3 separate regions of the Homo sapiens genome follow, and all the other regions are linked to region 3. The links come from fine-mapping of genetic effects on gene expression. A gene starts in region 3. Each other region holds a variant in brackets. All regions are shown on one strand. Distances are between the middles of the regions. Region 1 overlaps TIMMDC1 (translocase of inner mitochondrial membrane domain containing 1). Region 2 overlaps CD80 (CD80 molecule). Region 3 holds the start of TIMMDC1 (translocase of inner mitochondrial membrane domain containing 1).

Region 1 (8,116 bases), 21 kb after region 3:
TAATTTCCCCTCCCCATACCCTCCAGCCCTCAGCAAATATATTTCTACTTTCTGTTTCTAAGATTTTGACTACTTTAGATACTTCATATGAGTGGAATCATACACTATTTGTCCTTTTGTGACTAGCTTATTTACTTAGCATAATAATGTCCTTGAAGTTTATCTATGTTGTAACCTGTTGAACGGATTGCCCTCTTTTTTAAGGCTGCATAATACTCCATTGTATGTGTATGTTACATTTTCTTTAACCATCTGTCAGTGAACATTTATGTTGCTTCCACTTAGCAAAAATAGTTATTAGTATGAGGTTACTTAAATTGTAGCTGGAGGAAATTTAAGGTGTATGAAGGTCAAATACTTCTAGTCTGAGAACACAAGAACCAAACTCTCTTCATCACTATAATAATTATTATCTAAATCAGTTTCTCAATGGGTTGCTATTGGCATTGTGGGTGAGACAGTTACGCCAGACTCTTGAACTTCAGGATATTTTGGTGGTCCCACCCCCAAAAGCCAGTAGCATCCCTCCCTCAACCAGAAATGCCCTCCACATTTCCTGTCTCCTAGAGGAGCTGGTGCCATTCTGAACTAGAAATTTCATTTTTGAGAAATCTTTGGTGTGGGGCTACTTACTAGAACTTGTCATAAATATATATATTTTTCCTCTTTGTTTTGATTTATTTCTCATTCCTCATAAAAACAGCCAGTTTCTAGATCTGTTGTTTTATTATATATCAGTTAACTTTAGGAGGTTGTAGTGATTGTTTTTGTCTGTTGTTCAGACCAAGGAAGAGATTACCTCAATGTTTTTCTTTATTTGACAAGGACACTTTAATTCTCAAATGTTCCTGTACCTAATAGTGAACAAGTGGCTCTGGTGTTGCTCACACCTTAGCAGAGAATCTCACATGTTGCAAGGTCTAATGACTCGTTTTTCCTAAGCTTTCCCTCTCCTTTCTTCTCAGCACTCCTGTAGGAGGCCTGCTGATGGCATTTCAGAAGTACTCTGGTGAGACTGTTCAGGAAAGAAAACAGAAGGATCGAAAGGCACTCCATGAGCTAAAACTGGAAGAGTGGTAAGGAACATGTTGAGCCCAGGGAATCTTGGCTCTCTTGCCCCAGGCCTTATATAGTGGTGCTCTTTTAAACTTATGTACTCTAAACTGCCACTCAATTCAAAGAAGAGTTTATTTTTACCAAGTCCTTCAACTCATACTGTACATTGTCTTTTAATCTATTTAAGGAGAATGGAAAAATGAAAGAGATTGATTTTAGTTTTAATTTAATGAAGATCTTTCTTTGGATATCTTTTTAAGTTAAAAGTGGTGTAAATCTTGCTTGCATGTTTTTTCTTTTCCTGTGTTCTTAACTGCATAGGAAATTACCTAAAGGGAATATTCACCAAGGAGTGAGCTTTACCTGGCTTACTTAAAAAGTGACATCCTTAGCCTAGCAGGGTGGCTCATGCCTGTAATCCCAGCACTTTGGGAGGCCAAGACAGGTGGATCACCTGAGGTCAGGAGTTCGAGACCAGCCTGGCCAACATGGCAAAACCCCATTTCTACTAAAAGTACAAAAATTAGCTGGGCATGGTGGCACGTGCCTGTAGTCCCAGCTACTCAAGGAGGCTGAGGCAGGAGAATCACTTGAACCTGGGTAGCGGAGGTTACAGTGAGCCGTGATTGTGCTCCAGCCTGGGCCACAGAGCAAGACTCGGTCTCAAAAAAGAAAAAAAGTGACTTTTTTTTTTTTTTTTGCATACATATGTAAGTAAGACACAGCATGTTAAGTCTCCACAAAAATTCTATTTCTTGCTGTAGATGCAGAGGAATTAGGTGGACAATGGTTGTTCATGCACTGAATGCCACTGAGGAACATGAAAACTTTCACCTATTGCATCTAATCATCTCCTGGGATGCAATTTGTGGGATAGGGCAATCAGACTGATAGCTGACTTTGCACAGATTCAATATGTAAGATGAATATAACAGGCTGCCATCTAGTGCTCCTGAGTACAAATGATTTTCACTAGTTCACCTTCCTGGGTACCTAAGACAGCATTGGCTGCTGCTGCTGTTGCTGTTTTGGTATTATAATTGGATAGATGAGAAATCATTTTTTTCCAGTGTTTTCATTTGAAACCTCCATTTCTGCTAACCACACACACACAGACACACACACGGAAATTCTTAAGAGCTGTAGGTCCATCATCCAAGGACTTAAGTGCTATATGAGAAGAAAAGCATTGAGGTTGCAGTGAGCTGAGATTGCGCCACTGCACTCCAGCCTGGGCCACAGAGCAATACTTCATCTCAAAAAAAAAAAAAAATTAAAAAAGTAAATGAAACATTAAAAACTGCAGAAGTTTGTCAGTGATTTAGAGATCAGTGATTTTGAGATGGAAAAGCTTAAGAATGGCTGGCTATGGCCATTCTAAGGTCATTCACCTGGAGTCTTCCACCACTGGCAACCCTGCCAATTCTAGTGGCTGAGCTGCCACGTGCACCCCCTGAAGACTGGCTCATCCAGGGTCCACTGCCACCATTTACCTCCCCCCATCAGTTTAACAGCAGATTTGCCAGCAGAAACCTTACAAGTCAGGAGAGAATGGGATGATACATTCCAAGTGCTAAAAGGAAAAAACAAACAAACAGACAAACAAAACCCAAAAAACTCCTGCCAAGAGTATTATACCTAGCAAAGCTATTTTTCCAAAATGAAGGAGAAATAGTCTTCTCAAGACAGGCAAACACTGAGGGAATTTATCACCACTAGACTGCCTTATAAGAAATGCTTAAAGAACTCCTACATCTGAATGCAAAAGCACGGTAACTACCATTATGGAAACGTGAAAGAATAAAACTCACTGGTAGAGCAGATACAGAAAGGAATCAAACCTTATAATTACAAAAATCTACCAACCATGAAAATAAGAGGGGAAGAAAGGGGAACAAAGATTATACAAAACAACCAGGAAACAGTTAACAAAATGACAGGAGTAAATCCACACCTATCAATAACAATGTTGAATATAAACACTTTAAATTCCCCAATTAAAGATTTAGAGTGGCTGAATGAATAAAAAAAAGTTTAAAGACTCAACTATATATACTGACTACAAGAAACTCACTTCACCTGTAAAGATACAGATAGGCTGAAAGTAAAGGGATAGAAAAGGATGTTCATGCAAATGGAAACCATAAATGAGCAGGAATAGCTATACTTATGCTAGATAAAATAGGCTTTAAA[T/TA]AAAAAACTATAAAAAGAGACAAGGTCATTATATAATGGTAAAGAGATCAATTCAGCAAGAGGAAATAACAACTGTAAATATATATGCACCCAACACCAGAGCATCCATATATATATATATCTAAACAAATAATATTAGAGCTAAAGGGAGAGATAAACCCTAATGTAATAATAGCTGGGGACTTCAACACCACACTCCCAGCACTGGACAGATCATCTAGACAGAAAATCAACAAAGAAATATCAGACTTAAACTGTACTGTAGATCAAATGGATCTAGCAGACATTTACAGAACATCACATCCAACAGCTGCAAAATACACGTTTTTCTTATCTTGAAGTGTTCTTCAGGATAAACCATATGTTAGGCTACAAAACAAGTCTCAACAAATTTTTAAAGATCAAAATAACATCAAATATTTTTTCAGACCACAGCAGAATAAAACTAGAAATCAGTAACAGGAAGGACTTTGGAAACTGTGCAAATACACAGAAATTAAATAATATGCTCTGGAACAACCAATAGGTCAATGAAAAAATTAAGAAGGAAATTTAAAAATTTCTTGAAACAAATGAAAACAGAAACACAACATACCAAAACCTATGGGATACAGCAAAAGCATCACTAACAGGGAAGTTTATAGCAATAAATGCCTCCATCAAAAAGTAGAAATGTTTCAAATAAACAACCTAACACTGCACCTCAGGGAACTCGAAAAGCAAGAACAAACTAAACCCAAAATCAGAAGGAAATAAATAAAAAGATCAGAGCAGAGCTAAGTGAAATAGAGACTTAAAAACAAACAAAAAAACACAAAAGAAGAACTAAATGAAAAGTTGGTTTCTTGAAAACAAAATCAAGAAACCACAAGTTAGAAAAAAGACCCAATTAAGGTAAAAAACAAAAAAGGAGACATTACAACTGATACCACGGACATAGTCATATCATTAGAGATTATTATGAAACAACTGTATGCCAAGAAATTGGAAAAGCTACAGGAAATGGATACATTCCTGAGCCCCTATAATCTATCGAGATTGAGCCAAGAAGTAATAGAAAACTTGAACAGACCAATAACAAGTAACAAGATTGAACTGGTAATAAAAAGTCTCCCAACAAAGAAATGTCCAGGACCACATGGCTTCATTGCTAAATTCTGCCAAACAGTTAAAGAAGAATTAAGACCAATTCTCAAACTGTTCCGAAATATTGAAGATGAGAGAGTTCTTCCAAACTCATTCTACAAGGCTAGCATTACCCTTATACAACAACAAACAGACAAAGGCTCATTAAACAACAACAACAACAAAACCTACAGGCCAATGTATTCTACAAAACAATCCTTAACAAAATACCAGCAAACCAAATCCAAGAGTACATCAAAAAGATTATACATCATGAACAAGTGGGATTTATCCTAGGGATGCAAGGATGGTGCAGCATACACAAATCAATAAATGTGTTACATCATATAAACAGAAGGAAGGAAAAAAACCATATGATCATCTCAGTAAATGAGAAAAAGCATTTGGTAAAATTGAACACCCCTTCATGGTAACACCTCCCAAAAAGTTAGGGGTAGAAGGACTATTTCTCAGTACAGTAAAGGCCATATATGTCAAACTCACAGCTAATATCATACTGAACAGGGAAAAGTGAAAAGCTTTTCCCTCAAAGAACTGGAATGAAATAGGAATGCCCACTCTTACCAGTCTTGTTCAACATAGTATTAGAAATCCTAGCCAGAGCAGTTAGGCAAGAAAAAGAAATAAAGGGCATTGGAGGCCAGGCACGGTGGCTCACACTTGTAATTCCAGGACTTTGGGAGGCCGAGGCAGGCGGATCACTTGAGGTCAGGAGTTCGAGACCAGCCTGACCGACATGGTGAAACCCCATTTCTACTAAAAATACAAAAATTGTCATGGTGCACACCTGTAATCCCAACTGCGTGGGAGGCTGAGGCAGGAGGATTGTTTGAGCCTGGGAGGTGGAGGTTGCAATGAACCAAGATGGTGCCACTGCACTCCAGCCTGAGTGACAGCATGAGACAAAAGAAAATTAGGCACAGTAGTGCATGCCTATAGCCCCAGTTACTTGGGAGACTGAGGCTGAAGGATCCCTTGAGCCCAGTAATTCAAGGCAGCAGTGAGCCATGATTGTGCTACTGCACTCCAGCCTGGGCAACAAAGTGAGTCCCTGTCTCTTTAAAAAAAAAAAAGTGGGCGGGGGAGCTTGGGGGGAAACTTGTATTTCTCAAAAAATACCTACAAGTGCTAACAAGTATATGAAAAAGTATTCAACATAACTAATCAGGGAAATGCAAATCAAAACCACAATGAAATGTGGTTTGGGGACAGTTTGGGAAATTGGAGTGATATTTATCCCAATTAGAATGTCTATTATCAGAAAGACAAAAAATAAATTTTGGCAAGGATGTAGAAAGAAAAGGGAACTCATATACTTTTGGTAGGAATGCAAATTATTACAGCCTTTATAGAAACAGTATGGAAGTTCCTCAGAAAACTAAAAATAGAACTACTGTAAGATCCAGCAATCTTCCCTACTAGGTATTTATCCAAAGGAAAAGAAACCAGCATATCAAAGAGTTATCTGCGCCCCCATGCTTATTGTAGCACTATTAATAGCCAAGGTATGGAATCAACGTCAGTGTCCATCAACAGATGGATGGATAAAGAAAATGTGGTATATATCCACCATAGAATACTATTCAGCCATAATAAAGAATGTAATCCTGTCATTTGTGGGAACATGGATGAGCCTGGAGGACATTGTTATGTAAAATAAGTCATACACAGAAAGATAAATACTGCATGTTCTGTTGCTCATGTGGGAGCTAAAAAATGGGCTCATAGAAGTAAAGAGTAGAATTATGGTTACTGGAGGCTGAGGAGGGGACAGGGAAAGGCATAAGAAGAGGAGATTTAAGGGATTGATTAATGAATACAAAATTATAACTAGATCGGAGGCATAAATTCTAGTGTTCTGTGGCACTGTAGGATGACTATAGTTAATAATTTATTGTATATTTTCAAGTAGCTGGAAGAGAGGATATTTGAATGGTCCCAGCAGTATGAAATGATAAATGTTTGAGGTGATGCATATGCTAATTACCCTGATTTGATCATTACACATTGTATATGTACAAAAATATCACTTTGTACTTCATAAATATGTACAATTATTAGTATCAATTTTAAGACAGATGGATAAAAACAACTTGAATCATAGTAATGAAAGAATACTTTGGCAGAATGAAAGTGTCAAAATTGTATAGCATATACACGTATGGGTGTTTGTGTGTGTGTGTGTGTGTGTGTGTGTGTGTGAGATATTTCTAAGGAGAGTTAATAAACGTTTAAGTGTCTTGTATGTGCCTACTTCTTCGCTTGAAAATAATACAGGAAAATCAAACAAATTGAGAGTCAAAAAAATTGCCTCAATGAGCAGAAAATGTAGAAAACTGACTATAGAGATATAGAAGAACAAATGACCAAATCTGTGAAGAGTTGAGAAGAAACTTTAATCCCGATAATCACTTAAGGAAGACACTAATACTTGATTTAGAAACAGAACTGATCTATTATTTGGAAATTAGTTTTTAACTCTTCATAAATATAAATCTATAGTTTTGTTCTATCTGACTTTTCTCTACCTTGGATTACCATTGTTATAGCCTTTGACCAGTTCCTAAAAGGTCTGGTCACAGAGTTTAAGAGTGGCAGGGTACTTACATTCCCCCAGCCCTGGGAGCAAGAGGACAGCGAGACTTCAAGCCTTCACACCTTAGCACAAAGTGTGTCAGTTCCCACACATCACTCCTGTGAGAACTCTAGGACCCAGCATACTAGGAATATCTTATGGATCAGAGCTGTCACCACAACGGTATCCATTATGGTAATGTGGAAATCATAATTGGCTTGTGAGGTTAGGAGAGAGAAGAAAGTTACTGTATTTGAAGTTCAGGGAGCAGTATTTGCTTCTAAATTGCTATACCAAAGCAGGGAGGAAAAGACAAATGCTATCCTTTTTGTTTTAAATCTGTAAGAACTAAAGAAATGGAGCAGTATTTGATTTATCCTTTTTATCTGATTACAGGAAAGGCAGACTACAAGTTACTGAGCACCTCCCTGAGAAAATTGAAAGTAGTTTACAGGAAGATGAACCTGAGAATGATGCTAAGAAAATTGAAGCACTGCTAAACCTTCCTAGAAACCCTTCAGTAATAGATAAACAAGACAAGGACTGAAAGTGCTCTGAACTTGAAACTCACTGGAGAGCTGAAGGGAGCTGCCATGTCCGATGAATGCCAACAGACAGGCCACTCTTTGGTCAGCCTGCTGACAAATTTAAGTGCTGGTACCTGTGGTGGCAGTGGCTTGCTCTTGTCTTTTTCTTTTCTTTTTAACTAAGAATGGGGCTGTTGTACTCTCACTTTACTTATCCTTAAATTTAAATACATACTTATGTTTGTATTAATCTATCAATATATGCATACATGAATATATCCACCCACCTAGATTTTAAGCAGTAAATAAAACATTTCGCAAAAGATTAAAGTTGAATTTTACAGTTCGTATATTCATGTGGTCCTTTGAAAGGGTATTCTAGAAATCACTGGAAAGAGGAGAGGAAAGAACCAGGTAGGCAAATGGTCTGTGAAACCCTTGGGTCCTGGAAGCAGTGTGAGTGTAAATGTGTAGTGTTTGGTTTCATCTAAATAAACAAAGATGATTTCTTTGACACTTGAAATAAAATACAAATTCAACAAAAAGTAGATCAGCATTATTAAAGAAACGGTTCAACTTTGTTTCTTCCCTTAGTATTGCTGACAAAGTATCTGCTGTA
Region 2 (8,000 bases), 33 kb after region 3:
AAGGCAGGCGGATCACGAGGTCAGGAGATCAAGACCATCCTGGCCAACATGGTGAAACCCCGTCTCTACTAAAAATACAAAAAAAAATTAGTCAGGCGTGGCAGCACGCACCTGTAGTCCCAGCTACTCAGGAGGCTGAGGCCGGATAATTGCTTGAACCTGGGAGGCGGAGGTGCAGTGAGCTGAGATCGGGGCATACACTCCAGCCTGGGTGGCAGAGTGAGACTCCATCTCAAAAAAAAAAAAGAACTAAGAATTGGTTTGTGTTTTGAGATGGAGTCTCACTCTGTCACCCAGGCTGGAGTGCAATGGCATGATCTTGGCTCACTGCAGTCTCCGCCTCCTGGGTTCCTGGGTTCAAGCAATTCTCCTGCTTCAGCCTCCTGAGTAGCTAGGACTACAGGTGCACGCCACCATGCCTGGCTAATTTTTGTATTTTTAGTAGAGACAGAGTTTCACCATGTTGGCCAGGCCGGTCTCGAACTCCTGACCTTAAGTGATCCACCTGCCTTGGCCTCCCAAAGTGCTGGGATTACAGGCATGAGCCACCCCACCCAGCCCAAGAACTGAGAATTGGTGAGATCACCTGTAGCCATGTAGTTTCTCAACTGTATTAGTGCATCTTGCCCTCCTCCAAGAAAATGATTCTTGGCACCAAAATTTGTCAATTTGCCTTTTCTCTAACTCCAAATCAAAATTAGAATATCAGCAGGATGGTGGCCATGGAAGTTGGAATTCACTAAGGAGTGTGTAACAACTCACCTGCCAAATCGACTAGCCCTTAAAAAAAAATTAGAATATCATTTAGCATCAGAAACGTTTTCAAATTAGTTAGCAAACCCCAGTCTCCAAAAATATATAAAGTCAGGGAAAAAATAAACAGACTAAACTAGAATGTGTCTTGAGGGCAGTGACTTCTTGTCATTGTAATTCCAGTGCCTAGTAGAGTGCCACACACGTAGGAGGTGTCCGGAAAATGTCCAGTGAATGAACAGAACTTGTTGAGACAAGTAAAGGAGATGCTCATGTTTCCATAGGCTTGCTGTAAACATGAGAAGCGAATAGGCTAAAACCTCAGAGAGATGCCGAACCATGGTAATAAAGTTTGATCTTCCAGAATTGAGATCAGGATGATGGTATGATAGTACTTACAGTAGGTCAGGCAGCATATCACAAAAATTCCATTTACTGAGATTAAGGTAATGGCCCAGGATGGGAGCAGGTTATCAGGAAAATGCTCTTGCTTGGCTATGGAGGGAAAAGAATAATGTCAGCTGTAATGTATTTCCTACTGCCTGATACTCATTCTGTGCCTTTTCTATTGATGCAACTGTGGAGTATTCTTTGCCTGGTCAGCTCTCCAGTATGCAGCTGCTAGCATTTTTCTTGCATAATTCTTCAATCAGGCACATACTTGTGGGCAACTAATAGTCAGATGTCACATATTAAAAGTGAAAAAGATACTTTGAATGTCTGCATTTACTGAGTTAAGTTGACATAAGGAAGATTCTAAGGAAATCTTTTACAAGCCATCTTGCAGTATCTCACTTTTATAGCTGATTATAACTATGTGTTACTACTAACTGGTTGATGTTGTGTTCTAGGTATACTTTATTTTTCCTTCTCTAGCTCTGTCGTGCCTTCTCCCTTTCTCCTACCATATTCTCTCTCAACACATACACATCACACACACCCTTACCTCACAGTAGCTGCCCTAAAGCTACAGGAGCCACTTTGCATTCACTTTCGGATACAGGTTTTTCACCCTCTAGCTACTGGAAACACAGAACAAGTCTGGCAAAGAACTAAGTGTGGATATGGCTTGGTATTAGGTGGGACCATCCTAGAAGAGAGCACTGAAGGTTATCAGCTGTAGTTTCAGTCCCACAGAGAGCACAAGAAGTACACAAGGAAATGAGGGTGGGGAGGAGAAAGGTGTTGGTGGATATGGTGCTGCGGGTCCATCCCTCCAGATCAGGAGCAGCAGCTGCAGTATTTATTCTTCAGCTGCTTTGAGGAATCATTAGCAACATCTGGAAAAACGGCAGGGACACAAATTATAGCAGCTCATTTTCTGGTTTCTCTGAAATGGCTTACAAATAAATGAATATTTACTAACTTATTGTTTTTACTTTTTTTCTTCATGCTGAAGTTTTATTTAAAACATAAAAGAAATGTTCCCCCAAAATGCTAGTGAATAAAGCAAAAGGATACGACACAGTGCTCTCTCACTATGAGTTAGCCAGCCTATCCAAGTACAGGGTAATATACAGTACTCAATGCTGGTAGAATTTCACAGTAGTTTAGTGTTAAAGATTATCTGTGCCTAGATTATGAAGAGATTCTCAATGTGTGATGCTTAGTTCTGGGTTTACACCTTACTGGGCATGAACAAGAGCCCCTGCTCCTTGGCCATAGCCAAATCCCTTGGGCCCAAAGTTCTTTGCATAGCACCATTACAATAGATTTCACCTTCTTTTTCAGTCAGAGTTGTTGATTCAAGACTCTTCCCACACTTTGCACATCAGAAACAGTTTTTGTGCCAGGGCTTTCCAGCTCCAATTATCTTCTCGGCAGCATATACAGAATCCCCACATCTGGAACATTTCTCAGCACCTCCATATTTCTGAGCAAATTTAGAAGCATTTGGATTTCTTGTAGGCCTGTGAGGCTGAACACTCTCTGGCTTGATGCCCAGCCTCTCGCCATGTTAAGCGTGCCAGCACCCTGGCCATAACCATAGCCTTTTGTCCCATATTTCTTTCCATAGTAGGATTTGCAGTAGATCTCTTCATTGTGAATTGCCACTGTTGTGCTATCTAAATTTTTCCTGCAAACCATTGAGTCGGAGGCAGGAGCATGCACCACAGGCGGAGCTAGCAAGGCTGGGCTGGAGAGAGGGTCCAGGGAGTCCAAGATCCCTGTTTTTACTTTTCTGATTACCAAACCCAGTGGTAAGTTTTATTTATTTATTTATTTATTTATTTAAGACGGACTTTCACTGTGTTTCCCAGGCCAGGCTGGAGTGCAGTGATGTGATCTCAGCTCACTGCAATCTCTGCCTCCCGAGTTCAAGGAATTCTCCTGCCTCAGCCTCCCGAGTAGCTGGGATTACAGGGGCGTGCCACCACACCCAGCTAATTTTTGTATTTTCAGTAGAGATGGGGTTTCCCCATGTTGGCCAGACTGGTCTCGAACTCCTGACCTCAGGTGATTCTCCTGTCTTGGCCTCCCACAGTGCTGGGATTACAGGCATGAGCCACTGCGCCTGGCCTAGTTTTATTCTTTTGCTTATTGGACTTCTCATCAGCATTTAGCCAGTTGGAATCTTCTCCTTCTTGGACTTCTGTGACACCACATCCTTCTGTTTCTGTTTGTTGCACTCCGTTTTCTCTGAAGGCTTTTCTTCCTCTTCTTGTCCTCTAATTATTGTTGTTCCCATGGTTCTGTTTGTGGTCCCATTTTGCCCTTACTGGCCCCAGTCTTCCTGGGTAATATCCTCCACACCTGAGATTTGAAATGCCATCTGAGGCTGGGCACAGTGGCTCACACCTGTAATTCTGGCACTTTGGGAGGCCAAGGTGGGCAGATCACCTGAGGTCAGGAGTTCGAGACCAGCCTGGCCAACATAGTGAAACCCTGTCTCTACTAAAAGTACAAAAAATTATCGGTGGCGAGTACCAATCCCAGGTACTCAGGAGGCTGAAGCAAGAGAATTGCTTGAACCAGGGAGACAGAGGTTGCAATGAGCCAAGATTGCACTCCAGCCTGGGTGACAGAGTGAGAATCTATCTCAGAAAAAGACAAAGAAAAAAAAAAAAAAGAAGTGCCATCTGATTTCTAAATTTGTATATTGGATGGATGCCAGCATCTCCACCTGATTAAAACTGAATTTACTACCTGCTTTCCAAATCATATCTACCAGCTGTATTCTCCCATTTCAGTGAATAACAATACCATTTAGTTACCCAAATAAGAGTGTGGTATTTTCTTTGTGCTCACTTCCCAGTAGGCTCCCATGTATTTTCTGTTCTATATTCAGAATATCTCTGGAACTTACTGCTTTTTCCCAAATCTCTTGCAGCAACTGCCTTAGCTGAGATTTTTCTCATCTCCCACCTAGTAGCCTGCAAACCGGTCTCTTTGCCTCAGGTTTCCTAGGCTCTAATAACTCCTGCACATTGCTGTCACAGTAATCATTCTGAAACACCTATTTAATCATAGTGTACCTACCACTTAAAGACAGGA[T/G]AGTTGGTTTTTCTTTTTTCTCTAAAACACCAGATTGAATGGAGACATCAAGTGATTACCAGAGTTGACCTCTACAGATTAGAATGACACAAAAAATAACAAGCCATTGCTGTTATCCTGGGAGTCTAGAAGTTTCACAGGCTTCAGCTCATTCCTGGCTTCCACTCCACACCCATCCACAAGCCTCATTCAACCTAGAGAGAGTATGTGTGTGAGGGAAAGAGGGAGGCCTCAGTAGCAGCAAGCCAGGTCTATTGTGACACCTGTTAGAAACCTGGTAACATCCCACAGGGGCAGACCCAGAATCCAAGGTACAGAGCGGTGTGAGGGCATCTGCACATGTAGCTTATTAGATACCATGAGTATGACTCTCTCAGATGTATCTCCTTCCAGTTTATCAAGGGAAAACAAATTTGGTGAGACTACACTAAAAAGAATCATATGCGCAATCCGCTTAATTAATACATTTGGGCTTTTTTTTTTTTTCCAAATCAGTTATTTACTGATATGGTTTGGCTGTGTCCCCACCCAAATCTCATCTTGAATTATAACTCCCACAGTTGCCACATGTCATGGGAGGAACCCAGTGGGAGGTGACTGAATTATGGGGGCGAGTCTTTCCTGCACTGTCCTTGTGATAGTTAATGAGTCTCACGAGATCTGATAGTTTAAAAACAGGAGTTTCCTTATAACAAGCTCTCTTTTTGGCTGCTGCCATCCACATAAGACATGACTTGCTCCTCCTTGCCTTCTGCCATGATTTGTGAGGCCTCCCCAGCCACGTGGAACTGTGAGTCTAATTAAACCTCTTTATTTTGTAAGTTGCCCAGTCTCGGGTATGTCTTTATCAGCAGCATGAAAAGGGACTAATACATTTTCACCTCAAAGCTTTACTCACCCTGACCTGTAACATTTCTATGTACTATACACTTAATGTATATTTGTTAGTGCAGTCAGCCCTTGACCTCCTATAAATGCATTATTTGCTTTTGAATCTTATTCTAAAGAATCCCCACACAGTCCAATTAATGAGATTTGAGACATTTATACCCTAAAGCTCTCCAGCCACAAAGACAAAAACCTTAAGTTAGCAAACTATAGCACATGGGCCAAACCTGTCCTGCACCTGTTTTTAAAAATGAAATTTTGTGGCTGGGTGTAGTGGCTCACACCTGTAATCACAGCGCTTTGAGAGGCTGAGGCAGATGGATCACCTGAGATCAGGAGTTCGAGACCAGCCTGACCAACATGGTGAAACCCCATCTCCACTAAGAAAATACATAAATTAGCCAGTTGTGGAGGCAGGCACCTGTAATCCCAGCTACTTGGGAGGCTGAGGCAGGAGAATCGTTTGAACCTGGGAGGCAGAGGTTGCAGTGAGCCGAGACCACACCATTGCACTCCAGCCTGGGCAACAAGAGTGAAACTCTGTCTCAAAAAAAAAAAAAAGAAAAAGAAAAAAAAAAGAAAAATTTTGTTGGAACATAGCCATGTCATTCATTTATGTCTTGTCTGTGGCTGCTTTTGTGCTACAACCAGCAGAATTGAGTTGTTGCAACAGAGACTGTGACTGCAAAGCTTAAAATATTTACTATCTGGCTCTATTCAGAAAAAAATTTGCCAACCCCTGTCTTAGAATGTCACATATATCCATATTCCAATATAAATAATGTCCAAATCAAAATGCAATCCAAGCTAGTATTACTGATTTAATAATCAGTACTCTACTGTTTTCTGCCTTCAATCAGAATAATGTAAAATTGGTTAAATAATGCTATAACAAGAAAGTAAAAATAGAGACTTAATAAACTATATGATTGAAGCCTCATTTTAATAAAATTTTTACAACACATAAAAGATGACTGAGACTGGTAAGTTTGGAGTATCAATAGTCATGTCAAAGTTTGGTTTATATTTGAACTAATTTTCCCAGGAAATTTTGTCTCATTGAGGAAAATAAAGAATCTGCTGTAGCCGGGCATGGTGGCTCATGCCTGTAATCTCCACACTTTGGGAGGCTGAGGCGGGCAGATCACCTAAGGTCGAGAGTTCAAGACCAGCCTGACCAACGTGGTGAAACTCCATCTCTACTAAAAATACAAAAATTATCTGTGTGTGGTGGCTGGCACCTGTAGTCCCAGCTACACAGGAGGCTGAGACAGGAGAATTGCTTCAACCTGGGAGGCGGAGGTTACAGTGAGCCAAGATCACGCCACTGCACTCCAGCCTGGGTGACAGAGCGAGACTCCGTCTCAAAAAAAAAAAAAAAAATCTGCTGTAACACTGAAAGATCTAGAGTAAATCATACACTAGCATGAATTACTAGACCATCTAAAATAAATTATCCACTTCGCAACTACAAGTAAAGACATGAAGAATTAAGACATGCCATATAGTATATATTGTGCTATATACTTATGTGCAACTGTATTATCAAACTCAGTGTTTTGTTTCTTACTATACAGTCACAAAACCTATCCTTGGGAGTGGGGCTAGGGGTAGGGAGAGAGACCTGTGGTCCTCTGTATGATCAGCCGTACAATTTAAACAAGTATTAATATTTTGAGCATCTCAGTTCACCTTGTAAGCCATCTTAAGCCATTATAGGCCTAAGATGTATATATTCATATAAACCCATCGTTTTCATTGTATATTTTCAAATGATTTCACCTCTTGGGGAAAGAGAATTCTCTGAGTTTACTACCAGTAGGGTAAAATATTTGCTCCAAAATGACCTCTTTTCAGGCGTTGTCTTCAAGGAGTTTGTCACTCACCTTTCCCAGACTTGGTTCAGAATGAACCAGTAGTTCTTAAAAAGCACATTCGCCCACAAAAAAAAATTGTTTGGCACCATGGAACCGTGTGGGTGGCATGCCCTAAAAGAAAGCACCAAATCCCTAAGGGCAGTTCCAAAGGGCAAATTTTAATGCTTTCAATAATACTATTGTTACAAAAACTTTTTAAGATGAATGCTTGATGGATAATGGTTTTTAGTATATATAAATTTTAGAATATTTATTACAAGAAAATAAGGCCGGGTGCAGTGGCTCACACCTGTAATCCCAGCACTTTGGGAGGCTGAGGCGGGCGGATCACGAGGTCAGGAGTTCGAGACCAGCCTGACCAACATGGTGAAACCCCATCTCCACTAAAGATAGAAAAAATTAGCCGAGGGTGGTGGCTGGCGCCTGTAATCCCAGCTATTCGGGAGGCTGAGGCAGAAGAATTGCTTGAACCTGGAAGGTGGAGGTTGCAGTGAGCTGAGATTGTGCCACTGCACTCCAGCCTGGGCAACAGGGCGAGACACTGTCTCAAAAAAATAAATAAATAAATAAAAAGAAAATTAGTAACATTATCACACCTTGCACAGTGACTTTATTTTTTAAATTTATTTTTTAAATTATTTTATTTATTTCTTTTAGAGACAGGGTCTCACTCTGTTGCCCAGGCTGGAGTCTAGTGGCATGATCATAGCTCACTGCAACTTTGAACACCTGGGCTCAAGTAAGCCACCCACCTTACCCTCCCAAGTACCTAGGACTACACATGTGTGTCACCAAGCCTGGCTAATTTTTTAAATGTTCTGTAGAGTCAGAGTCTCATGCTTCCCAGCTGGTCTTGAACTCCTGGGCTCAAGTGATCCTCCCACTTCAGCCTCCCAAAGTGCTGGGATTACAGGCATGAGCCACTGTGCCCAGTCTCACAGTGACTTTAATAAGTCATAATAGCACATGTCATTTGTATATCTAAAA
Region 3 (8,355 bases):
CAGACACAGTGGTTCACACCTGTAATCCCAGCTCTTTGGGAGGCCAAGGCAGAAGAATCACTTGAGCCCAGGAGTTCAAGACCAGCCTGGGCAACATGGTGAGACCTCGGCTCTACAAAAAAAAAAAAAAAAAAAAAAAAAAAAAAAAAAAAAGAGGCAGGAAGATAGCTTGAGTTCGCAATGTTGAGGCTGCAGTGAGCCATGATCATGCCACTGTACTGTACTTCCACCTGGGCAATGGGAATAAGACCCTGTTTCTCAAAAAAAAAAAAAAAAAAAGCACAGATACACAAAAGTCTATCTTTACATGCATCTAAAGATGCCCTCTCTTAGGATAATCTTACTGCATCCAGAGGTAAGGTGTTGTGGATGGAGCAGAGAGTTATATTTACAAGTCACTCATTTAATACTTACCAGATACTTCTTAAGCATCTACTATGCACAGAGACAAGGAAAGTTTACAAGAGGCTCCCAAACCTCAAGGGGCTGTGCCGTTGAGATGATAAACAATATGAGAGGCATCATACATACGTGGAAGGTGATTAAGGCAACAGGAGTGCCAATTATTCATGAAGACAATGTGGATCTGGAGTTTAGAGGAAGAATAAACTTCCAACTGGAGCAGATGGGAAACTTTGTGGAGGTAAAAATTAATTTATACCATGAAGGATAAGTAAATGAAATGGTTCTTGGAGTTCTCAAAATTCATTCTCTCTCCACATGTTGAAAAGTTTTATATCATATATAATGTAACAAAATGTAAAATACGTAGCAAGGGCAGTACTTGGTGAACCTGGCAGGGAAGGGAACCTGCTGACCCCTGAGAAAAAAATTCACTGTGAGGGAAGAAACTATTAGGTTCTATAAACAGAATTCAGCAACAAGGGCTGTTGGTGGAAGAATGGTGTTCCAGGCAGTATGGTGATTGCACTGAAATCTTTCCCTGATGCAGTTACTCTGCTGGCAAACACATGTCCTGGGGACAAGAAAGCCATATGTGAAACAGTGGTCCAGTAAACCCCATAACACCTTTTGGCTTAGACCAAGCTTGTCCAACCCATGGCTCACGAACTGCACGCGGCCCAGGAAAGCTTTGAATGCGCCCCAACACAAATTTGTAAACGTTCTTAAAACATGAGATTTATGCATGGACTTTTTTCTTTTTCTTTTCTTTTTGTTTTTTGTTTTTAGCTCATCAGCTACAGTTAGTGTTATGTGTGGGCCAAGACAATTATTCTTCCAATGTGGCCCAGGGAAGCCAAAAGATTGGACACCTCTGGCTTAGACTGTATTGATCGGAGAACCTTCAAAAAGAGCAGACTACAGCCTACAGGGCTGGGCTTGGTGGCTCACACCTGTAATCCCAGCACTTTGGGAGGCTGAGGCAGGCAGATCACTTGGGGCCAGAAGTTTGAGACCATCCTGGCCAACATGGTGAAACACCATCTTTACTAAAAATACAAAAATTAGCCAGGCTTGTGGCACATGCCTGTAATCCCAGCTACTCAGGAGGCTGAGGCACAAGAATCACTTGAACTTAGGAGGCAGAGGTTGCAGTGAGCCGAGGTCTTGCCACTGCCCTCCAGCCTGGGTGACGAAGCTAAGACTGTATCAAAAATAAAATAAAATAAGCAGACTACAGAGGAGGGTGAGCATTTCCCTTGTTCTAAAAGAAGGTAAGCCGTAAGGGATTGGGGAAGTAGGAAATGTGGGAGGGCTCAGATGGAAGAGCAGCAACAGTGCGAGCAGTAGCCAAAGGAGAGGGGAGTTTTTTGAGTTATCAGGTGGCAAAAGGAACATTACAAATGAGTCTTCCGTTACCCAAATGAGAAACAAGTTATGGAATTTAAAATTTGCCTGTTAATATTACCTCATCTACAGGCTAGTGAATCCTGGGGCATTTGAGTTGTACATAAGTGATTGTGTCAGTATCTTCCCAACACCCACCCAAACCCTCCTACCCATTTCAAGTCCTCCTTCACCCCAGAATAATTCTGGGGTCATCTTATGCATTTAGCTTTTTCTACATATAGGTTAGAAACAGACTGTACAGCCATTTTCTTGGGCTTTCAGGCCTTGGTAACTTATCTTGGTGCCCACTTCTACCTAACATGGGATAAGCAGTAATCCAGAGCCAGAAGTCAGGAGATCTGAATTATTCAACAAATATTTACTGAGCACCTACTGCGGTTCTAGGTCCTGGAGATACAGAGATGAATATATTTGGTCTGTGATCTCAAGGATAGTTTATTGAGACAGATTAATAGGAAATTATGATGCAGTGTTGTAAGTGCTACGATGAGTGCTGAATCAAATCTCATATCCCAGAGTAGTCTTCATGGCGCTGTCACTAATTGAGCTGGTCACTCTAGTCAGTCACTTCTCAGGGACTTATGTGTAGCATTTCCAGCTATCAAATTCCTAAGTCCACTTACTGTATTCTACTACAGTGTGGCAGTTTTGATTGACAACTAGAAAGGAATCAAGGAGGTGAAGGGATTGGCAAAATGAATAAGGGAGTATGCTTGTTAACAAGGATTGAATGAAATTACACGAATATTGAGAATATTTTAAATGCATTCATTTTAATGAAAACTGTACTTCGAAGCATATGTTAGCAGAGGTTGTAGTGACGGCAAATTATACAAACACTTGATAGAAATTCCAGAAATTCTCCTGCCTTTTGAGAAGCAGTAGGCATATGAACTAAAGGGAGTGAAATCCACCTTAGGAAGACCTGCCAAAAAGCTGATTCTTCAAAAAAGTGTTCTCGAAATCTTAGTGTAACTGGCACCAACACCCATCCCCAATGCCTCGTTTTTTTTCCAGCAGAACTGACAAGGTACAAACGGACCCCGCCCAGCCTGGAAGGCTTCTCTAATGTTGGCAGAGTAGGTTGGACTTGTTTTTGCACAAATCGCCTTTCCCTCTTTCCCTACTCCACTTGCACTGAATATTGCACTTTCTTCCTTACTGAAGCGGGATTCCTGCCTTTTTTTTTTTTTTTTGAGACAGATTTTCGCTCTTGTTGCCCAGGCTGCAGTGCAGTGGTGTGATCTCGGCTCACTGCAACCTCCGCCTCCCGGGTTCAAGCGATTCTCCTACCTCAGCCTCCCGAGTAGCTAGGATTACAGGCGCCCGCCACCATGCCCGGCTAATTCCTGGCATTTTAAATACGATAAATTACTTCAACCTATGACCACCTCAAGCTGAATATAAGTAGCCGCAGACACCGTTTGCATGACCCAGGAACCACAAACACGGAGCGAAGGCCTGCCGGGACCACGCTGAGCTTCACTACTGGCAGCCAACTCACTTCCGGGGGTGCACTCAGCACAGCAGTGGCCCAACCCGCCCTCAACCGGAAGTCTTTTGGGCTCCGGCTTCGCCGTCGCCCCGCCCCCTGGCCTTTGCCCCGGTCGGGCGGGACTTCCTGTGTCGTATTTCCAAGGACTCCAAAGCGAGGCCGGGGACTGAAGGTGTGGGTGTCGAGCCCTCTGGCAGAGGGTTAACCTGGGTCAAATGCACGGATTCTCACCTCGTACAGTTACGCTCTCCCGCGGCACGTCCGCGAGGACTTGAAGTCCTGAGCGCTCAAGTTTGTCCGTAGGTCGAGAGAAGGCCATGGAGGTGCCGCCACCGGCACCGCGGAGCTTTCTCTGTAGAGCATTGTGCCTATTTCCCCGAGTCTTTGCTGCCGAAGCTGTGACTGCCGATTCGGAAGTCCTTGAGGAGCGTCAGAAGCGGCTTCCCTACGTCCCAGAGCCCTATTACCCGGAATCTGGATGGGACCGCCTCCGGGAGCTGTTTGGCAAAGAGTAAAAGTGCCTAGGGTGTGAAGTGGGGTAGGGGGCCGCGAAAGCGGTGTCCTGCAGCGTGGGCAGCCTGGGTCAGCCTTAGGACACCAAGGATGGTGTGCTTCATTTTTAGATTATATTTGAGGTTCTGATATTTGTAACCCAAGCTTGTATCTTTTTTCTTTCTTTTTTTTTTTTTTTTTTCCAGACAGGGTCTTGCTCTGTCGCCCAGGCTGGAGTGCTGTGGTGCTATCTCGGCTCACTGCAACCTCTGCCTCTGGGACTCAAGTGATCCTCCCACCTCAGCCTCCCGATTAATTGGGACTACAGGCGCGCACCACCACGCCCGGCTAATTTTTTTTTAATGTATTTTTTATAGACAGGGTTCTTACCATGTTGCCTAGGCTGGTCTTGAACTCTTGGACTTAGGCGATCCGCCTACCTCGGCCTCCCAAAGTGCTGGGATTACAGGCGTGAGCCACCGCGCCAGCCCAAACTCGTATTTTTCTTTCTTTTTTTTTTTTTTTTCGAGACTGAGTCGCGCTCTATCGCCCAGGCTGGAGTGCAGTGGTGCGATCTTGGCTCACTGCACTCTTCACTTCCCAGGTTCAAGCGGTTCTCCTGCCTCAGCCTCCAGAGTAGCTGGGATTACAGTTGCCCACTACCATGCCCAGCTAATTTTTGTATTTTTAGTAGAGACAGGATTTCACCATTCGCCAGGCTGGTCTGGAACTCCTGACCTCACGTGATCTGCCTGTTTCCGCCTCCCAAAGTGCTGGGATTACAGGCCTGAGCCACCGCGGCTGGACTGCGCCCGGCCTAGAAGGGCAATTATTTTATAGTAACTTAATACTTAAGACAGCTATTTGTTAGAGCAGTCTCAGGATGACATCTTGGAAGCTTCATTAGCAGTTCTAGCTTCTTATGCATTTGAGAGTAACAAATCGAATTAAATAGTAGTTTTTCCTTGTTATTTTAGATTGGCATGTGCCACCCACTGCATAGTGAACTTTCCCAGTGCGTTTTTAAAAAAACATTTATTTGTTTATTTTTAGAGCCAGGATCTTTGCTATGTTGCTATGCTGGATTTGAACTCGGGCTCAAGTCCTACCTCAGCCTCCTAAGTTAGCTGTGACTACAGGCGTGTGCTACTGTGCCCAGCCCAGTGCTTTTATTAGTACAGTCCTATCTGAGTATTTCATGAAATTATTTAGTAAAATAGAATTTAGATTTTTTGTCTTACATCCACGTTTTTATTCTTTCATACATTGCCCTAAAATCTCACGAGTTGGTGTGATTTCTAAAAGTTAACTTAAGATTTAAACGGAAATATTGGTCTCTCTATCCAACTCACAAATTCTTCCTATTTCTAGGGGTGTAATAGTCATCAAAAGCACCTTTTAAAAAACTTTTTATTGGAGTAGGAAATGCATTTCGAAAAATGTGCCTAAGTATACTGATGGATGAATTTTCACAAACTGAACATAGCTGTACCCAGCACTAAGAAAGAAATGGCAACTATTGTAACATCCCAAAAGCTCCCCTTGTGCCTTTTCCGGTCATTGTCTTTTCAGGAGTTGCCACTATCCTAATTCTAACACCATAGCTTCGTTTTGTCTGAGACTACGTTCCTTTTAATATAACTGAACTGTTTAATTCATCTGAGAATTCTACCTATGATGAAAAATGTTGTGGTGGTAGCATTTGGGTTAATTCTGATTATAGAGTCTCTTGGAGAGCAATGTCCATAAACTAATCCCAAACAACATTGTCTTTTTGATGTTGTAGTGAACAGCAGAGAATTTCAAAGGACCTTGCTAATATCTGTAAGACGGCAGCTACAGCAGGCATCATTGGCTGGGTGTATGGGGGAATACCAGCTTTTATTCATGCTAAACAACAATACATTGAGCAGAGCCAGGCAGAAATTTATCATAACCGGTTTGATGCTGTGGTATGTACTGGTGATCTAAAGAAATTTGGGGCACACTGACTTAGTAATTCACTTTACACTTAATCATTCAATTAGGTTGTGGGGATGGAGGGTTGTTTTAAGGTGTCAGAGTAAAGAAATAAAGTCTGTACTTAATAACAGTGGAAGTACTAATGTTAAAGTGCCTGCATGTTGTTTGAGAGACTACTTTGTTATCTTCAGAACAGGCATGTTTGGCATCACCACTGTGGCTTTTCTTTCTCAAATACATTTCTTCCAATCCCCTGCTAAATCGTCAAGGCTCAGCTGTAACATATTTACCTCATTCACAAAGCCTCCATGAGTATAGGAGCTCACACTAAAGCAATAGTTAACATTTATAACTTTATAGAGTGCTAACTCGTTTGTTACATCATTAGATCTGTACATCAGTTCTTTTGTGAGAATATTAAAGCTCAGAGAATTTTTAACTTTTTATTTTGAAATTATAGCAGGCTTGAAAGTTGCAAAACTAGTACAAAGATTTCCTATATACCTTTCATCCGGATTCTCCATTGTTAACATTTTACCATGTTTGTTTTATCATTCTCCCTCTGTATAATATGTACTAATTTGTTCTGAGCTACTTGACAGTAGGTTATAGACATGATGAATACTTCAGTGTGTTATTTCCTAAAAACAAGGAAATTCTCTTATACAACCACAATTATAATATCAAGATCAGGAAATTAACACAGATATAGTACTATTATCTTATTTAAAGACCTGTAAATTTTGCTAGTTATCCCACAGTATCATTTATTTTAAAAATAAATAAAAAAATGTATTTTTCAGAAGTTAGGCTTGAGTTCTTATTAAAAAATTAATTAATTAAATTTTTTTTTGTCTGGTCCAGAATCTGACCCTGGATCACATGTTGAATTTGCCTGTTATGCTGCTTTGGTCTCATTTAGTCTGGAAGAGTTTCTCTGTTTTTGTCTTTCATGGCCTTGACTATGGGTGATTTATTTTGTAGAATGTCCCTCAATTTGGGTTTGTTTGATGGTTTCTCATGACTGCATTCAGACTATGTTTTTTGACAGGAATACCCTAGAACTGAAATTAAATTAGAAACCCATGATATCTCTGTCCCTTTACTGGTGATGTTTACTTCAGTGACTTGCTTAAGATGGCCTCTGCCAACTATACACTGTAAAATTACTATGTTTTTCCTTGGTAATTTATAAGTATTTTGAGTACTTGTTAGTTCCTTTGAGACTATGTAAATATCCTGCTTTTCATCAAATTTCTACTACTTAAATGCTATTATAAACTATAATATTTCTACTATCTAAAAACTATTCTAAATTCTTAGCATTTATAATTTTTTTATTTTTTTAAAAATTATTTATTCCTTTATTTATTTTTTGAGACAGGGTCTCACTCTGTTGCCCAGGCTGGAGTACAGTGGCACAATCTTGGCTTGCTGCAACCTCCATTTCCCAGGCTCACTCGATTCTCCTGTCTCAGCCTCCCAAGTAGCTGGGACTATAGGCATGTGCCACCATTCCCAGCTAATTTTTGTATTTTTTGTAGAGACAGGGTTTTGCCATGTTGCCCAGGCTGGTCTCAGAGTCCTCAGCTCAAGCAGTTCACCCCCTCCTTGGCCTCCCAAAGGGTTGGGATTATAGGTGTGAGCCACTGTGCCCAGCCTATTTTTATTTTTTAATTAATTAATTTTTTTTTTGAAATTTTTTGAGGCAGGGTCTTCCTGCCTCAGTGCAGGCTGGAGTGCAGCGGCGCGATCATAGCTCACCACAACCTCAAACTTCTGGACTCAAGGTTTCCTCCCGCCTCAGCCTTCCGAGTAGCTAGGACTGCAAACACACACCACCATGCCTAGCTAATTCTTAAATTTTTTTTGTAAAGGCAGGATCTCGCTATGTTGCCCAGGCTGGTCTTAAACTTGTCGGCTCAAGTGATCCTCCCTAGTTGCCTCCCAAAGTGCTGAGATTACAGGTGTGAGCCACCATACCCAGGCAGTTTTAGCATTTAATGATGATTCTTCCTGTAACAATTATGACTGTGGTGGCCAAATGGGCATTTTCTAAAGTCTATCATTCTTTCTACATTTATTGGTTAGTATTATGCTCTAAGGAAGTGTTTTCCCTTCCCCCCTCTATTTACATATTTATTTATCTATTTATAATTTATTTCTATCAGTAGGGACTCATGGATTCTTATTTTATTCTGTAGATTTATAATTCATTACAGGTTGAGCAGCACAAATCTGAAATCCTGAATGCTCAGATTCAAAACTTTTTGAGCATTGACACGTCATTCAAAGGAATTGCTCATTGGAGCATTTCAGATTTCGGTTTTTTGGATTTGGGATGCTCAACCAGTAAGTGTTAAAAGCGCATATTCCCAAATCTGAAAAAATCCTAAATCCAAGTATCAGATAAGGGATCTGGTCTCAAGTATCAGATAAGGGATACTCAACCATTTTTTCATCTCCTGATAGGATAGGCTACACATGGAACTTTTACGTAAGCCTCAATACTTAAAGAATAGTATTTCTAGAGATTTTCTAGTATTTCTATCTGTTTGGGTGTACCTGACTAATCCATAGCTAAAATTCCTCTA

The links.
Region 1: its variant is fine-mapped to the expression of TIMMDC1 in monocytes (TOPMed, PIP above 0.99).
Region 2: its variant is fine-mapped to the expression of TIMMDC1 in whole blood (GTEx, PIP 0.96).

What each region holds. Positions count from the first base shown.
Region 1 is chr3:119,516,240-119,524,355 of GRCh38, forward strand. TIMMDC1 (translocase of inner mitochondrial membrane domain containing 1) reads left to right here. Exons shown (of 7, transcript NM_016589.4): 6 at 966-1,076; 7 at 7,367-8,116. The coding sequence ends at 7,517. It overlaps CD80 (CD80 molecule), which reads right to left. Exons shown (of 7, transcript NM_005191.4): 7 at 8,054-8,116. Among named protein-coding and RNA genes, the nearest start is that of TIMMDC1, 22 kb to the left of the region's middle. The variant T/TA (reference allele first, on the strand shown) is at 3,250.
Region 2 is chr3:119,528,690-119,536,689 of GRCh38, forward strand. It overlaps CD80 (CD80 molecule), which reads right to left. Exons shown (of 7, transcript NM_005191.4): 5 at 1,153-1,248. It also overlaps the pseudogene CSRP2P1. Among named protein-coding and RNA genes, the nearest start is that of CD80, 27 kb to the right of the region's middle. The variant T/G (reference allele first, on the strand shown) is at 4,249.
Region 3 is chr3:119,495,110-119,503,464 of GRCh38, forward strand. It overlaps TIMMDC1 (translocase of inner mitochondrial membrane domain containing 1), which reads left to right and starts at 3,438. Exons shown (of 7, transcript NM_016589.4): 1 at 3,438-3,818; 2 at 5,586-5,751. The coding sequence starts at 3,625. RefSeq lists an enhancer at 3,178-3,227.